Homo sapiens: one gene and its partner. The protein of the gene in region 2 purifies or fractionates together with the protein of the main gene of each other region. This does not show direct contact. Each region holds a gene or a part of one and is shown on either strand. Other genes may lie near its edges.

Region 1 (3,653 bases), on a different chromosome or scaffold from region 2:
ACTTGGGTACTGCCCATGGTAGTGGCAAGTGGGTGGTCCCTGACTTATCAGTGGCCTGGAGAGAGGAGGTTACTCTGTTGGCCTCCCTTGTTTGGGCTCCTGCCTCAGCACAGAGGCTTGTTGCTTGTCTGAATGGAGATGGAAACTCTTTGAGGACCTAGGGCTTGGGCTGCAGGCTGAGGCCATCCTTGTTGTCCCCTCCTTTCGACATGTTGCTCTAGCCATGATACCTATACCCTTCTGTCCTTCTGTCTGTCCACCCATCCATCTATGATGTGTTTGGAATGATTCTGCCACTTAGGACGGCAAGGGTCCTGCCTTTGTCGGCTTTCCAGTCTTGTGGGGAAAGCCTGACATTTAGAAAGTAGTTGTCGAGTACATGTGTAATGTTTTATTTCTCATACAAGTGTTCATTGTGTTATTTCCTCTTGAGATTATTTTTGGTTATATTATTGGTACACTTTTTGGATGTCTGAAATAATCCTTTAAGCAACAACAGGCCATTAGTCAAGGGTGGTTAAGTTAGGTGGCAGGGGAAGCACAAGGGCCAGTGGAAATAGAGAGTTTGCCTGGTCTCAGGGGAGAGGGAAGAGCCGAAATCAGAGGAAGGTGGGTAACCTTACGGCCAGAGGTGGTAACTTCCGACTTACGCTAAGCCTAGAAGCCAAACACATTCAAGGGTGTGACATTATGGTGTGGCTGCAGTGAGGGGAGGAAGGTAGGGGAGTGCCCAGCTTCCCTGTCTGCAGTGCAGCTTCATGGCTGGCCCCACAAGTCTCAGGTCTCCACGGACCCCCACTAGAACTGCTGCCGTGGATGCAGTGGGGCCCAGCCTGGGGAGAGGAGGCCCTGTGGCCTCTGGGCAGGGTGCTTCGAATAACCCAGTAATTGGGTGCTGCTGCAGGCAGACAGGGACAATGTAGGTGCAAGCCTCAGTCCTGGCCCCGGTGTGCTTGTTCAGCCTTTGGTCTACTACCCCCACCCCACCCTCTCAGGTTCTCCCTCTAAACCTTAAAGCCACATGCTTGATGAAGGGCCTGGCTGGGGAAGCCAGTGTGTACCCTTGTAAGCCTCTCTGTGGACCCTGAGGCCCTTCCTTTAGAAGAGGCTGAGTCCCAGCTGACTGACTGGTCAGGAGGCCATGCATTTTCCTTTCACAGGTGTCAGAGCCTAGGCCACCTGGTGCAGGATGACCAGAGCTGTGGCTGGGCACTGCCATTCTGATTGGGTGACATTTCGGACCCTTAGGTGCTACCTGGATCCTTGAGATTCGTTGCTTGCTCCTGCCCCTGGAAGAAGCATCCTGTCACTTCAGGGAGTTGCAGAAAGGGGTTGGGTTTGACAGGAGAATGGCCGCTCCAGTGGTGGGGGGCTTCTTTCACCTGACAGCCAGTCAGTATCCTTCTCTCTGGGGTATACCCTGGGAAATCAAGCTCTTTCCTCATGAAGGCCAACAGTAGGGGTGGAGATGAGCGTGAGGATGTCCTTAGGCTACGCTAGTGTTCAGGGTACTTTGCCCTCCCCCAGGGTCAGGGCAGGGTTCGTGTTCTTTCCTACTCCAGTCAGCCTTTCAGGCTGATGGCGAAGTAGGGCTCTTGGCTGCTGGTGGGCTGGCTGTCTGGTGGGATTGACTCTGACCCCTCCCTCCTTCCTGGGATGGGAATAGTGGTAGGAGAAGACCAGCCAGGAGTGGTGCCAGGTCACTGGCCTATGTGGGCCCAAAAAGTGTGGATAGGATGGCTGGATGCTTGGTGCAACTATCCTCTCGGGTGTCTGTGTGGGGTTCTGGCAGTGAGGTTGTAAATGCCACCACCTGCCTCCATTGTGGGCGGCCTATAATGGGGTGCTGGCAGAGCTCTCAGACAGAACCGAACCTCCTTTGGCATCTCCATACTCTTTCCTATGTCAGGGCTATGTGGTTCCTGCGGGTAGTGGGAGTAGACTGGGGCTGGGACTGGAGGTTGTTTTGTAGGGGATGGTGAGGAAGATGGATTTGGGGAATGTTTGAAATCAAGTTTGAAGGAAAGTGTTTGAATGGGCAGGTGGGGGTTGAAGTCGTTGTCCACCTGGATGGCACTTCCTGCAGCAGGTGGAAGGGGGTTCAGAAGTGATGGGGAGTGCCCTGGGGTCATCAGGAGCCTAGCCAGGAGAATGATCTGTGATTGCAGGTTAAGCCACCAGCTAGCTCTCCTCTGCCTGAGGCATGTATTCCCCTTGGTGACTCTGGGAGGCTTACCCTGTACACGCAGGCCTCATTCCTTAAGTTCTCCAGCCCTGCCGAGCACCAGGTGTGGTTGCTGGGTGTAGAAAGGACACTTACAGGGTCCTTTCCATTCCGTATGGGCAGGGAGTTGTGGAGGACCCACTGGCATGGTCTCCCTGGGGAACTGTTGTGAGAAGGGGGCTTGGGGGCAGAGACAGGAGCAGCAGGAAGCCACTCCCCTTTGTAGTTTTCCCAGGTGGTCCTTGAGATCTTTATCACAATCACCTGAGACAGACAGGGGTGATTAAAAGCACATATTCTGCCCCCATTCCCATTGGGATGGGTCTGGATTGGGCCTGGAAATACGTATTTGAATGAACACTGCTCCCCTTTCCCACACCTGCAACATACAGTGATTCCGATGTGCACTGGGGTTTTAAGGGGGCCTCTTCATCGGTTTCTGCTGCAGCAGGGAAGTAGCCCCCACCCCCACGCAGGAGCCTCAGGTGTTGGTGCCCTTTCTGTGCATCTGGACTCTGTCTGTCTGGCTGTTTATCCATCCTTCTGTGGCATTAGGTTTCCTGCCTCCTCCCTTTTGCTTAGGCCTAGGGGCAGCTGTGATGGGCTGCAGAATGAGGTGGGGGCTGGTGCCAGCTGGCACACGTAAATTAAGAGGTGTGGGACGGATGGGTGGCCTACGTCCAGGGGTGAGTGCAGGAGGTTGGTGACCCCAACCCACCACCCGGCCTCCCTCCCTCAGGGTGGCCTGGCACCCAGGACTGGGAGTAGGGGTTTGGGTGGTGGTCCCAGGGGCATGCTCAGTGGTTCTCTTTTCTCTGGGGCACAGGCTCTGGGCGTGGGGAGGCTGAGACACGGGAGTGCATCTACTACAACGCCAACTGGGAGCTGGAGCGCACCAACCAGAGCGGCCTGGAGCGCTGCGAAGGCGAGCAGGACAAGCGGCTGCACTGCTACGCCTCCTGGCGCAACAGCTCTGGCACCATCGAGCTCGTGAAGAAGGGCTGCTGGCTAGATGACTTCAACTGCTACGATAGGTACCCCAAGACTTGCCCTCCTTTCCTCTTGGACCCACCTGCGCTTATACTGCCCACTGGGCCATTTGGGTCTCAGGATGTCTGAGTGGGAGATAAAGGACCAAGAAGGGGCTCTTGAGATGGTAGCCATGGCCCCACGCCCTTCCACACCCTATTTGTCCTACCTTAGCCCTGAGGAGGGGTCTCAGTGTCAACCCCTGGCTGTTCTTCCTTGGCTTTGGGTCTCCTGTAGGGGAGGTGAGTTCACACCGTCCCCCTGGTGTTGCCCATGAGGTGCTCTGTCTGTGAGGAGGGGTTGGCAGGGCAGGCCTGGGGGAGTCTTGCATCCCCCAGGTGAGGGGTATATGGAAAATTCTGTGCCTCCAGGCAGGAGTGTGTGGCCACTGAGGAGAACC
Region 2 (3,321 bases):
ACTACACCGCCCCTACCACCACTCTCCACCGGGAAAACCCCCTCAGGAAGGGCTCCTTCGTACACTCACAGCCTGACTCTGTTTACCCTTCTATCCCAAGATACCAAGCCACTTCTAGGTCCCAGTCACCTCCAAATAGAGGTGAGCAGAGGTTAGCTGGACTTCAGCCTTCAGGGTTTTACATTTCCACCTGGGGACGGGGGCTTACCCAGCACTTGCAAATGGTAATGGATGTGGCCTTGGTGAAACATAATCAATCTTGGGACTAGCAGGATAAACAAATGTGTAATTCATGAATTTGCTAATTGTCCTTCATTTTGATCTTCAGCCATTTTTCCTGGAATCTCTGCCCGACATACATCTCATGGCAAGGACGCAGAGATGCCAGGAGCAGGCCGTGGAAGCTGCTGGCATCCAACCTGGACACCTGGACTGGCCTTCCTCCCAGCTGCCCACCTCCAGCCCAGGCCTCCCTGCCCCAGACATCACGCAAGGCAGGAGGCCCGTGGCACTCAATCTTTTATTTTCTTAAACTGTACACAAACGTACAATACTTTAACAGCAAGTCTATGGGAAAATTGTTTGGTTTTAAATTATTATGAAACAGAATCTAAGGGGAGCTTTATTAAATAAACATAAAGATGAGGATTTAAGGATACACACCTGCATTCTATCATAGTCATTTTTACTCTACCTTCTGGGTGTGTAAGGATGGAAAAGACACATCAAACCGAATAAACAAAATCCATTCATACCCTGAAACGTTGGCAGGCCACTCAAGGGACTGCTCAGAACGTCCACCTCATCTCAGATGGCCTCACCGTCTAATAAAATTAAAACTGATCTGTTGGCCTCTTTGGTTCCAAAATTATGTATAATACATTTAACTGTATTCTTTTTTTTTTTTTTTTGCTGCTATAAAAATAACTTTTTTTCAAATGGCAGTTTCTGACTAATCATGCAACTAAATCAGTGCAAACATTAAAAGCAATCATTCGCTTAAAAAAGAAGCAAAGGATTTCATTTCAAGTATAAAAAATATAAAAAGAGTCGTACGAGTCCAGTTTCGTCTAGTGTGGGTCAACCCTTTAAATTGCATAGTTCACGTGGCACTTGGACATCTAGAGGGCGAGCGAGTTCGGCGCTCGGCCAAGGGCCACTTCTGGACACACGCAGATCGGCAAGTGCTATGTCATGTGCGTTCAGGCAGGTCTGCAAGTGCTATGCGGGCGGGCGGGCAGGCGGGCAGGTGAGTGGGCAGGGGCCACGTCCACGGCCAGCCCTGATGGCTGGGGCCCACATGGGCAACTTCTGCAAATCAGCTGAAAGCCTTCCCCATCTCTCCAAGACCAACTAGGCTGCTCCCCTCCCTTGGCCTCCGCTGAGGGGACACCCCCCATCCTCAGCAGTTCAAGAATGCCTCCTCCCCGCCATTTCCTCCTGCGGTCTCATCCCCTTGCCTAGGGGTCATTCCCACCCGTCCCCAAACCAGTCCTAGAGGAATGTCCCCAATGAAGGGCACAGATTGCAACTTTTTTTCTTTCCATTTAGAACAATTCAGATTTTCACTTAAAAGGTCATACCTGGTAGAAAAGTCCTTTTTCAGTTATACAACTGGCAAGGATGACCTGTCAACTGTTGGAGATCAGTTAAAGCATCAAATTTAGCCCCCTCTTCTCTCCCTCCCTCCCCACCCCAAAAACACACACACACATAAGTCATGTCAGAGGCCCAAGCCACAAACAGTCAAACGGTCATTGCCCCTGCTCCCAGGTCTCTGACGGGTTGTGTCCTTTCTGGGTCTCTTTCCCTCGACAAGGGCATGGAAGGACAGGCTCCCCAGGCCTTGAAGCACGAAGGATCCCAGGCTGGGGAAGAAGCAGACATCGAGCCAGGCAGAGCAGGCCTGGTAAAAGCCACGGGGCACACGCAGCCTCCGCCGAGCTGCGCTCCCCACCCCTGCATCTGCTTTTCCTCTCCGTGGCTCTCTCTCTCTCTCTGCGTCTCTGTCTTTGTGCTTTTATGTGTGCTCGGAAGGCGCAATTCAGAGTGGCCGGGCCAGCTGGTGGGAATGGTGGCTGCTCACCCCATTCTCTCCGACTGACAGGCATTTGTAGCTAAGCTGCCATTTGTCACCGCATCCATTTGCTGGTATCCTGGAGGCTGCTGTGTGGGTGGCAGGATGCGTCTGGCTGTGCGTGGCTACGTGTGCATTTTAAAGTATTTCATGTCAGTTGAGGGTTCTCGCTCTGGTTTTGACTGGTTGCTCTATGAAGCTGTAGAAAAATATCTCAGGCCGCACCCTGGCACTATCTCCACAGCCCAACAGAATGACTGTACTCAGCCCACCGTGTACCCCCGTTCCCGCGGGGGCTGGAAGAAGCCCACCCGGGACTGCCCTCCGTGCCCCACCACCGTGCCCCTGCCTTGCACTGTCAGGCGCAGCCGCACTCCTCCACAATCATGTTGGGCACGTCCCGCTTGACGATGTTGTACTCATCATCGAAGTACAGCATGGACATGGTGCTCAGCTTGGTGGGAATGCAGCAGGAGTTCACCGTGCCGGGGTTCAGACCCCGCATGCGGTACTGGTTCACCACAGCCGTGTGGAAGGAGGAGGCAGAGCCGGGGACCCCTGCCAGGTAGGCTGGGCAGCTGCCCTCACAGTAGTTCCCGTAGTAGCCGGTGGGTGCTATGATCCAGTCGTTCCAGCCGATGAGGCGGAAGTCAATGAAGAACTGTTGCCTGCAACAGAGGTTGGTCCGGCCATCGCACTCCAGGCCTCGCTTGCGAATGCGGTGCCTGCTGTCGCCCAGCCGAGCCTGCACCACCACAAAGGGCCGGTGCGACTCTTCGCCTGGGTCCACGAACACCGGCACCACGGCCAGCTCCTGGCAGCTGTCACACTGCACGTCTAGGTTGAGTCGCCGCTCGCCCCGCTCAAACAAGGCCTGGATGGCCTCCGTGAGTGGGAAGGTATGCCAGCCGCTGCGCTTGAGGTCCACCCTCTTCTCCACCATGTTCCACCTGTCACCGTGGCCCTGCTCCTGGAAGTACACTTTGACCCGCACCTTCCGCCGGCTGCCCTTCTCCAGGACGTAGGGCAGGAGTTTCAGGTAAAGCCACAGGCTGGCCTGGACCACAAACAGGTTCTGGTTGCCTTCGTTGGAGATGAAGAAGTATAGGCGGACCCGGGAGGAGGCGAGGCCATCTGCGGAAAAGGGGAAGGGCGAGCCAAGTTAATTCAAGGAGAACACAAGGCAATGGGGGAAACACACTCTCTGCTGCAGGATGCTGGAATGCAACTCGCCACACAGCTGG

The links. Proteins that work in one complex are often made in the same cells at the same time.
Region 1: the proteins of INHBB (region 2) and ACVR2B purify together in Homo sapiens (affinity purification with western blotting; 2 studies listed by BioGRID and IntAct, with this or other methods). This does not show direct contact.

Annotation. Positions count from the first base shown.
Region 1 is NC_000003.12:38,474,237-38,477,889, forward strand, and holds part of ACVR2B (activin receptor type-2B precursor), read left to right. Parts: intron 1-3,050; coding exon 3,051-3,258; intron 3,259-3,624; coding exon 3,625-3,653. UniProt on the Homo sapiens protein: Transmembrane serine/threonine kinase activin type-2 receptor forming an activin receptor complex with activin type-1 serine/threonine kinase receptors (ACVR1, ACVR1B or ACVR1c).
Region 2 is NC_000002.12:120,348,989-120,352,309, reverse strand, and holds the end of INHBB (inhibin beta B chain preproprotein), read right to left. Parts: intron 3,212-3,321; coding exon 2,436-3,211; 3' UTR 507-2,435; downstream 1-506. UniProt on the Homo sapiens protein: Inhibins and activins inhibit and activate, respectively, the secretion of follitropin by the pituitary gland.